Regions from separate parts of the Homo sapiens genome. Here region 1 is linked to region 2. Evidence: fine-mapped expression QTL. A gene starts in region 2. The other region holds a variant in brackets. All regions are shown on one strand. Distances are from middle to middle. Region 1 overlaps NUP205 (nucleoporin 205). Region 2 holds the start of STMP1 (short transmembrane mitochondrial protein 1).

The links. PIP is the estimated chance that this variant, and not a neighbour inherited with it, causes the effect. A credible set is the group of variants that fine-mapping cannot tell apart.
Region 1: its variant is the best candidate, but not a certain one, in a credible set for the expression of STMP1 in subcutaneous fat (GTEx, PIP 0.57).

The regions. Positions count from the first base shown.
Region 1 is chr7:135,608,222-135,613,597 of GRCh38, forward strand. The region is part of intron 22 of NUP205 (nucleoporin 205); the gene reads left to right. Among named protein-coding and RNA genes, the nearest start is that of STMP1, 52 kb to the right of the region's middle. The variant T/A (reference allele first, on the strand shown) is at 2,749.
Region 2 is chr7:135,660,208-135,665,583 of GRCh38, forward strand. STMP1 (short transmembrane mitochondrial protein 1) reads left to right here and starts at 2,307. Exons shown (of 3, transcript NM_001130929.2): 1 at 2,307-2,387. The coding sequence starts at 2,373. It also overlaps the pseudogene RPL15P11. RefSeq lists silencers at 2,182-2,401, 4,874-5,168 and enhancers at 3,041-3,565, 3,566-4,090.

The sequences.
Region 1 (5,376 bases), 52 kb before region 2:
CATCATGTTGGCCAGGATGGTCTCAATCTCTTGACTTTGTGATCCACCTGCCTCGGTCTCCCAAAGTGCTGGGATTATAGGCATGAGCCACCGCGCCTGGCCAGAAAGCACTTTTTAATAACCAAATAAATTAAGAAGTCCTGTATACAACTATGTTAAGTGGTAGAATGTCAGATTAACATTTAAACTATAATGAGGGCTGGGCCTGGGCATGGTGGCTCACGCCCATAACCCCAGCACTTTGGGAGGCTGAGGTGGTCTGGATCACTTGAGGCCAGGAGTTGGAGACCAGCCGGGGAAACATGGCAAAACCTTGTCTCTGCTGAAAATACAAAAATTAGCTGGGCGTGGTGGCACGTGCCTGTAATCCCAGCTACTTGGGAGGCTGGGGCATGAGAATTGCTTGAACCCAGGAGGTAGAGGTTGCAGTGAGCCAAGATCATGCCACTGCACTCCAGCTGGGTGGCAAAGTGAGACTCTGTCTCAAAAAAAATAAAAATAAATACATAAGTAAACTATAATGATAATTTATAATTTCGCTTGTTCACTTTTGTTTATTGTTTTATTCATTTTATAAGTGTTTTAAAAACTAGGCTTGGCCGCGTGCAGTGACTCACGCCTTTAATCCCAGCACTTTGGGAGGCTAAGGTGAGCAGATCACCTGAGGTTAGGAGTTAGAGACCAGCCTGGCCAACATGGTGGAACCCCATCTCTACTAAAAATACAAAAAAAATTAGCTGGGCCTGGTTGTGGACGCCTGTAATCCTAGCTCCTCAGGAGGCTGAGGCAGGAGAATTGCTTCTACCCGGGAGGCAGAGGTTGCAGTGAACCTAGATCGTGCCACTGTACTCCAGCCTGGGCAACAAGAGCAAAACTCCGTCTCAAAAAAAAAAAAAAAAAAAAGAACCAGGCTTTATAAGCTGTGACTAATTTCTCAATTTAAGTGTTACCCTAAATTTACATTTTTAGGATAAGAAATGGTGGGTCATGAGATCAGGAGATCAAGACCATCCTGGTGAACATGGTGAAACCCCATCTCTACTAAAAATACAAAAATTCATCCTGACTAACACAATGAAACCCCATCTCTACTAAAAATACAAAAAATTAGCCGGGCATGGTGGCTGGCACCTGTGGTCCCAGCTACTCGGGAGGCTGAGGCAGGAGAATGGCGTGAACCCGGGAGGTGGAGCTTGCAGTGAGCCGAGATCGCGCCACTGCACTCCAGCCTAGGCGACAGAGCGAAACTCTGTCCCAGAAAAAAAAAAATACAAAAATTATCCGGGCATGGTGGTGTGTGCCTGTAGTCCCAGCTACTTGGGAAGCTGAGGCAGGAGAATGGCGTGAACTTGGGAGGCGGAGCTTGCAGTGAGCCGAGATCGCACCACTGCACTCCAGCCTGGGCAACAGAGCGAGACCCCATCTCAAAAAAAAAAAAAGAAATGCATCACTAACCTCTTAGTGTTACTGGCATGGATATTTTTCTTTGTTAATCTCCTGCTTTTCTTTTTGTAATTCTTTACTATCTTTTCTGTCCTCCGGCTGTCCAAACATCCCTTCACTGTAAGTACTATAGCTAGGTTTTCCTGTAAATCAAAATTAATTCTTCCTTATGGGGGAACAAATTTGATGTACATATTAGCACAGATTTACAGAATTTGATATATAAGTAGAAACAACTGATAAGCTTAACACCTAGGCTAATGGCAGGTGAAGTAAATGAATGAAGCCAGGGTCCAGTTAAGGGAGTGGGAGGAAAGGAGAATCTGGCAGACTGGAGAGCATGTGCCTTCCTACTCATCCCTGGCTTATTTTACCATGCCAGAGTGCAGGATTTGTTGGGCCAGATTGTCTGAATTTTTATTTTTATTTATTCATTTTTAAAAGAATTTGGAAATCTGAATTTTTGTTAAAGTTGTTCTAACTTTTAGAACACTCTACTAGCCAAGGAAAACATGTCCATACCAGCAGTTTACCAGTTTATAACATACTCTCTGTTGTCGTTGTTACTGTTTTTTGAGATGGAGTCTCACTCTATTGCCCAGGTGGAGTGCAGTGGCACGATCTCAGCTCACCGCAACCTCCACCTCCCGGGTTCAAGCGATTCTCCTGCCTCAGCCTCCCAAGTAGCAGGGATTACAGGCATGTGCCATCACACCCGGCTAATTTTGTATTTTTAGTAGAGAGGGGGCTTCACCATGTTGTCCAGGCTGGTCTCAAACTCCTGACCTTAGGTGATCCACCCGCCTTGGCCTCCCAAAGTGCTGAGATTACAGGCGTGAGCCACCGTGCCCGGCCATAACATATGCTCTGTGACCTTGCTACTCAAATATGGCCCAGGGACCAGTATCATCAGCATTATCTCCTAGGAGCTTATTAGTGCAGAATCTGAGGCCCCACTTTAGACCTGATGAGTCAGGATCTGCATTTTTACAGAAAGCACTGCTCCATTTATAACTAAATATACTCCCTATACCTATATGTTTGTACTTCACCCTGCTTCAGAAAAAAATTTAAACCTCTAAGTAAGAAGAGCTTGTTAGTTTAAATAAATCTGATTGTAGCAAAGGGAAATGGTCCTTACTGATACCTTCCTTGTCCTGCAACACAAGGGCTTCTGGGTGAAGAAGTTGAGGCCTGGTGCCTTTGCCCTCTTTTCTTTAAGAACGGAGATTTCTTCTACCTGGTCCCTGGTCTTGGAAACCAGGAAGGATATAGCCCACATCTTAATAAAATGGCTTTCAGTGC[T/A]TTTTGAACTCACTTTTTGTGTCCTTCTCTTCTTTTTTTTTTTTTTTTGGGTGGGGGACAGAGTCTTGCTCTGTCGCCTTGCCTGGAGTGCAGTGGTGTGGTCTCGGCTCACTGCAACCTCCATCTCCCAGGTTCAAGCAATTCTCGTGCCTCAGTCTCCCAAGTAGCTGGGATTACAGGCGTCCCTGGGCCACCACGCCTGGATAATTTTTGTATTTTTAGTGGAGACGGGGTTTCACCATGTTGGCCAGGGTGGTCTCAAACTCCTGACCTCAGGTGATCCGTCCACCTTGGCCTCCCAAAGTGCTGGGATTACATGCGTGAGTCACTGCCTGGCAGTTCTCTTCTGATAGTATTATTTCTTCCACTTGTTAGAGTATCTTCTTGTGTTTTCTTAACTCCCCCAGTAATAGACCTAACTGATTTTGTTTTGAGAAGTTCGGTATTAGCTTAAGTTTTTGTTTGTTTATAGAATATCAAAATGGTATCAAAACTGTTTAAAAGGTCAATGTACATCTGTAGCAGAGCTTTTTACTCTTTTCCTTGTCTTCTTTCTCTTTGTGTATATACATTGTTTATAGTTGTATTCAGTATACATGAAATTTTGTGTCTTTTTTACTCCTCTCTGTATAAACTTTCTGTGCTGCAACAATGTAAATTACATTCAGGTTGTTTCCAGTTTTTTTTTTACTCTGCTGTAGCGAACAAAAAAACAAAAATTAGCCAGGCGTTATGCCATGTGCCTGTTAATCCCAGGTACTTGGGAGGCTGAGGCAGGAGAATCGCTTGAACCTGGGAGGTGGCAGTTGTAAATAAATAAATTACCTTTGGTTGTTTTGTATTTTTCTTAAGAATATATTTCCAGGCGGGCACTGTGGGTCACACCTGTAATCCCAGCACTTTGGGAGGCTGAGGCGGGTGGATCATGAGGTCAGGAGATCAAGACCATCCTGGCTAACACGGTGAAACCCCGTCTCTACTAAAAATACAAAAACAAAATATTAGCCGGGTATGGTGGTGGGCACCTGTAGTCCCAGCTACTCAGGAGGCTGAGGCGGGAGAATGGCATGAACCCGGGACGTGGAGCTTGCAGTGAGCCGAGATCGCGCCACTGCACTCCAGCCTGAGCGACAGAATGAAACTGCATCTCAAAAAAAACAGAAGAAAAAAAAACAGAATATATTTCCAGACAAGGGTTTATAGTCAGTTCTCGTTATTCACAGTAGTTGTGTTTTATAAAGTCATTGTGAAAACTGAATTGGTGAATTCATTGCCCCTATGGAAAATACAGGCTAGGATTCCTGCAAGTGTCTGGTTCCAACATTCTTGTCAACTGATGAATTCATAATCATGTTTTATGTGTGTTTCTGTTTAAAGACACCTTACTTAATGTAGTTGATTCATTAACATTAAACTCATAGCCAACAGCACTATAACTCAGCCTGAATGAAATTTATCTAATGTAGTATTTTATCTTAAAGGCATATCACAGCCTTTTTGCACTTAGGGACAAGGCAGCATTTCAGCACTATGCTTGGGGGCTGTTTTAAACAGCAAAATCAACAAAAAGCACAAAAATGCAAAAAACGTGGCACTAAATAGACCATTTAAAGAACCCTTTTTATAGTATGATAGCTGGAACAGGAAAAGCATTGCTCCATTAGAGAGCATGAGAGTTCGGTGACTGCAGTTTGTAGCTGTTCTCCCGCGCATGAAGGACCATGGAAGCACTGCAAGTATTGATTTTGGGATTTTAAATAAATTTTAGCATGTTAGGTGAATTTGCAAATATGGAATCTGTAAATAATGAGGATTGACTGTGTTGGGTCAAAGACTATCAAGAGTTTTGGCTTTAGATTTTAATTCACAAGTAGTCATAACAATTATACTAGGTATTAATAGTGCTCAGAATAAACATGTCTTAAAGTGCCTGGTACATGGAAAGCATCTAATAAATGTTCATATTAGCCACGCATGGTGGCATGCAATTACTGTAGTCCCAGCTACTCAGAAGGCTGAGCTGGGAGGATCACTTTAGCCCAGGAGGTTGAGGCTGCAGTGAGCTGTGATTGCACCACTGTACTCCAACCTGGGTGACAGAGTGAGACCCTGACTCAAAAAAAAAAAAAATTTGCTGATTTATAATATGATACCTACCTATTATCATCTTGATTTTTTTTTTTAATTCCTGAAAACAGATGGACATTTTTTATTATGGGCTATTTTTATTTTTCTCATATAAAATGTCTTTTACCATATGGGCTACTTTTACCATCTGGGGTACTTAGATCTTTATGTTATTCATATCTGTAATGGAGATCTTTATATATATTAGAGCTAGCAACTTTTTCTTATATTTAATATAAGAACTTTTTCTCTTATCTATTCTTTTTTGTTAAATTTTTATTCAGTTTATTGTTATTTAGTTGAATTTATGGATCTTCTTTGTAATTTCTGCATTTGCTTTAGTTTTGGTAATTTTAATCTTCCAGAGGTTGAGATGTAACTCTTATGGTTCTCAGAAGTTATTTCCAAGTAATTTGCTACTAATAATTTTTTTCTTTTCTTTTTTTTTCTTTTTTTTTTGAGACAGGGTCTTGCCCTGTCACCAGGCTGGAGTGCAGTGTC
Region 2 (5,376 bases):
AAGGTTACATTATATATAGGATTCATGTTCACCATGGTGGTCAAAAATGCCCAATTCCTAAGGGTGCAACTTATGGCAAGCCTGTCCATCATGGTGTTAACCAGCTGAAGTTTGCTCGAAGCCTTCAGTCCATTGCAGAGGAGCGAGTTGGACACAACTGTGGGGCTCTAAGAGTCCTGAATTCTTACTGGGTTGGTGAAGATTCCACATACAGATTTTTTGAGGTTATCCTCATTGATCCATTCTATGAAGTTATCAGAAGAAATCCTGACACCCAGTCGATCACCAAACCAGTCCACAAGCAGAGGGAGATGTGTGGGCTGACATCTGCAGGCCAAAGGAGCTGTGGCCTTGGAAAGTGCCATAAGTTCCACCACACTATTGATGGTTCTTGCTGGGCAGCTTGGAGAAGGCGTGATACTCTCCAGCTCCACCGTTACCACTAATATAAGTAAAGTTTGGGCCAGGCGTGGTGGCTCACGCCTGTAATCCCAGCACTTTGGGAGGCCGAGGCGGGCGGATCACAAGGTCAGGAGATCGAGACCATCCTGGCTAACACGTTGAAACCTCGTCTCTACTAAAAATACAGAAAATTAGCCGGGCGTGGTGGCGGGCGCCTGTAGTCCCAGCTACTCGGGAGGCTGAGGCAGGAGAATGGCGTGAACCCGGGAGGCGGAGCTTGCAGTGAGCCGAGACTGCGCCACTGCACTCCAGCCTGGGTGACAGAGCGAGACTCCGTCTCAAAAAAAAAAAAAAGTTTGTAAAATTCGTACCTAATAATTTAGGACAGTCATGTCTGCTTACAGGTGTTATTTGTCTGTTAAAACTAGTCTGCAGATTGTTTCATGAATGCTTTGTCAAATTATGAAAATTAAAGTGCAATAATTTTTGAAGACAATAAGGGATGGTGTATCTTGTTTCTAATAAGATGAACTTTTTTTGTCTTTGCTTTATCTTATTAGGGAGTTATATATCTTATTAGGGAGTTAGTGTTTAAAACATACTGTGTGGTATAATAGGCTTAAAATAAATTCTTTAAAAGAGAAAGAGAGAAAAAAACACACACATACACAGACCGGAAGACTGACAGAACAGACTCTTTGTGGCGATGATACAAATTGTCAACAGGACCTATGGCCATCCCAGGCAAGAAACCCAGCTAGGCCAGTGAAACTGAGAGCCAACCTGATGAGGCCTGCCAAATGCAACTTCTCTCACTTGTTTTTAGTCACCTGCTTTTAGTGGATTAAAAAACCCACATAGCTAAAGTCACAGAGCTAAACAATATATATCTAAGCTCCCACTATCTTCCTTATGGATAACATCTCTGACATCTGGGTTGCTTGATAAAGGTTTCTTGTTTTTCAGGAAGTTGGGGTCAGTTCTTGTACAGTTTAAACCACCAACCTCTCAACTGGGCCTGCATGAAAGCCCGATGGGTGTCCTTCTGACATTAGAGGGCCAAAACCTCCACACTCAGATCATGCTAAGGATGTCATTTTGTGACCATGTATCCTATAAAGAGCCATGAAGCTTGACTACCTCGCGCAGATAACCCATTGCCAAACTTTTCCTTACCTTCAACCGCCTTTCCCCACACCTCAGACCACCCTGCTCCTCTATCCCATAAATATCCCTAAAACCCATCTTTGGGGAGGCAGATTTGAGATCTGTTCTCCCGTCTCCTCGGCTGGCTGCCTGGTGAATAAACCTTTTCTCTGCTACAAAACTCATCATCTCAGTGACTGGCGTGCGGCACACGGCAGCATGGGCCCCATACGGTACCCAGCCTCTACCTTGATTACACAACACCTGATTACACAACGCTGATTACACAGCACACCTGCGGAGCTTTGAGAGCTACAAGCCTCCTTTCCTCCCCGCAAAGTCCAGCTGGGCCCAAGTAGAGGATGCTGCAAAAGCCCCCACGATTCAGCTGCGAACCTAGGGATGGGACCCGCTGCTCATGCCGTCCTTCTAGGTTAGAGAGCCCTAAACTGGGCTGTGTATCAGAATAGTCCGCGTGCTGAGAATAATATAGATTCCTGGGCCTCGGCCCAGGTTTACAGAGGCGGGATGCTCAAGGATGCCCAGCCAGGCTCGGGACTTGCTCTTCGCAAGTCCTGTCGCGCGCTCGCTGCCCCGCCGGTTCAGGCGGTGAGGCCAACGCGCTCCGCCAGGGGGAACCTGGGCGCTGCGACACTGCAAGTCGTTTCCGGGCGCGGGCTGAGTGGGAGGAGCGGGGCGGGGCGTGGCGTGACCCGGAAGTCGACGAGGGGTTCCGCCCCCCCCGCGCATGGGGAGGTAGGCTCGGACCGGCCCGCGGAGCTGCTGCAGTCCTTCGCGCCCTCCTCGCCCTCCCCACCGACATCATGCTCCAGTTCCTGGTGAGTGGAGCTGCCGAAGAGCGGGGCCCGCTGCCTGGGGCGTGCCTCGGACCCCATTTCCCCCTTGAGGATTGCCGACCCCGCCGACCCGGCCTGGGCGTGGGTCCAGCGGTCCCTTCGTCCCCCGCGCCTGGTCGTCGCCTCGCAGGGCGGCCGTTTTCTTCCTGCCTCCCCAGAAAATCCCTTTGCCAATATTTTTCTGCAGCCATCCAAGTCCCTAAAACTTTGAGGTGTCAGAGAGTGTGCGTTTCCAGAGCTTCTTATTGTGTGCCGCGCCCCGCGCTCATTGTGCAATCTTTGTATTAAAGCTTGTGTGGTCCTTGATGACTTTTCGTAGTCCGCCCCCCTTTCTTTCTGCGCTCCTGTTCCATTACATGGTCGCCGGCCGGTCCCTGCTGTGGAGCCCTGCTAGTTGGCTTTTCTGAGGAGGTAGGAAGGCCAGGAATAAACCGTAAATTAGCCACCTCACGAAGTCCGAGAGGCTAAGTCCTCATCAGACCTTTCAGAGTTGGAGGAATGAGTCAGACACTGGTATACAAGTAATTTTTCCCAAAATGTGTAAGCATGAGTAAGCAGACTATTTCTCTTGGCTCCTTATTTGAGTTAAAAACGAGTTTTCTGGCAAAACTCGGTATATTTCAAAAATTGCTTGGTGAAGGTTCCAGGAGTTGCTCATCAAATTTTCAAGTGAAAGTTTTTCTGCCAAGCTATTGTGCATTCAAAACTTGATGCTTTCAACCTCTATTTTTTTTTATTTTTTATTTTTTTTGAGACGGAGTCTCGCTGTGTCGTCAGGCTGGAGTGCAGTGGCGCAATCTGGGCTCACTGGAACCTCCGCCTCCCGGGTTCAACCGATTCTCCCTCCTCGGCCTCCGGAGTAGCTGGGATTACAGGCGCGCACCAGGATGCTCAGCTAATTTTTGTATTTTTAGTAGAGACGGGTTTCACCAAGTTGGCCAGGCTGGTCTCGAACTCCTGACCTCAAGTGATCAACCCACCTCAGCCTACGAAAGTGCTGGGATTACAGGCGTGAGCCACTGCTCCCGGCTCAAATGCTGTATCTTTTTTTGTTGTTTGTTTTAACGGAGTCCCGCTCTGTCGCCAGGCTGGAGTGCAGTAGTGCGATCTCGGCTCACTGCAGCCTCCGCTTCCTGGGTTTAAGCGATTCTCCTGCCTCAGCCTCCCGAGTAGCTGGTGCGCGCCAGCAGGCCCAGTTAATTTTTGTATTTTTAGTAGAGACGGGGTTTCACCCCGTTGGCCGGGATGGTCTCGATCTCCTGACCTCGGGATCTGCCTGCCTCAGCCTCCCAAAGTGCTGGGATTACAGGCGTGAGCCTCCGCGCCCGGCCCCAAATGCTGTATCTTTATCAAAGAGATTAAAACACAAAATGCACCCCTTTTGTCCTTTTGAAAGATGGTAATGGATTGTTAAATCCAATTAGTCAAAAGAGTGTCCTTAATCTGCCCAGCTAAGACAGGGCTGCTCCTTTGCCTCTAGGAGTTTCTGTAGTGTCCTAACTAGATGTTAGTTTAGGAGTTCAGAATAATGACAGTCATTTTCTTGTAGTAAACACTAGATTAAAAGCGGTATCACTTAGCTCCAGAGTATAGAATGATGTAATTGAGCTGCTTACTATATCTGTTGCTCATTGATAAACTGAGAGGACATGATTCAATTACAGTTAACTTTCTAAGTGGTTTTGCAGAATGAGTCTATTTGGTTTTGCAATAAACTTTTACTGTGTGTTAATTTTTTTTTTTTTTTTTTTTTTTTGAGACAAGGTTTCTCTTTGTCACCTAGGCTAGAGTCCAGTGGCACAATCATGGCTCAGTGCAGTCTTTAATTCCTGGCCTCAAGCAGCCTTCCCACCTCAGCCTCTTTAGTAGTAGCTAGGACTACAGGCCCGCACTACCACCCGTGACTAATTTTAAAATTTTTTTTTTGTAGAGACAGGTCTTGCCTAGGCCTCCCACAGTGTTGGGATTACAGGCATGAGCCACCACTGTGCCTGGTCAGATTCTGATTTGAGAATTCAGAATTCTCAGTATTTAAGGAGAGATGCTAAAGCTGTCAATTATATTCCTAGCTCAGAAGTAACTGAACACTGATGTTCTCTCACCCTCTGGTCTTCCACCTCATTGCTTTTTTTTTTAAATAAGTGGATAGCATTACTTTTCACATTGATTCCACCTCTGTCAAATGAGCCACTGACTCTAAAGTTGAGCAAGTATTTCTCTTTGTGTGCAGTCATTTCATCTATTAAAAAATGACCATCATGTTCTAGTGTTTAAGAGATTAAACTTCAGAGTCAGACTTCTCAGTTTGAACTCTGCCTCCCATCATTTTCAAGCTGTGGTAGCGTGGGTGGGCTATTGAAATTTTCTGTGCTCCCATTTCCACATCTGAAAATGCAAACCCACCTCACAGTTTTGTTGTGAGGATTAAAAATGAGTTAACACATTAAAGAACTTAAAAACAGGAGCACTCAACAAGGATTCAGATAGTGTTCAGTTTTTCTTTTGCAGGGTTCATTTGAACCCTGATTGAGTTTCTTCTCAAGTGGGGATTAGCTTCTCTCAGAAGGGTAGGTGATAGGAAAGGTTTAGAAGTGATGAAACAGTCACAAGTTAAGCAGTGCGTTGTCATTACACATTTTGGAACCGTCTAAGATGTTTCTCCTACAGTTGTGATTTGTGGACAGTTTGAAAACCACTGCACTTGCTTGTGTTGGTGATAACGTCCTTCCATTATTCATATTCCTCCTCAGATTAAAATATTCTCCCTTTGTCCCTATCTTGAAGAGACCTTGTTCCTGTGATTTTCCCCTTTTCTTTTACTGCAGTTTTTCCCCTTTATTATTACTATTTTTAATAGTGGAGATAGGGTCTCACTATATTGCCCAGGCTGGTCTTGAACTCCCAGGCTGAAGCAATCCTCCCACCTCAGTCTCTCAAAGTGTTGGATTATGGGCTTGAGCCACTGCTCCTA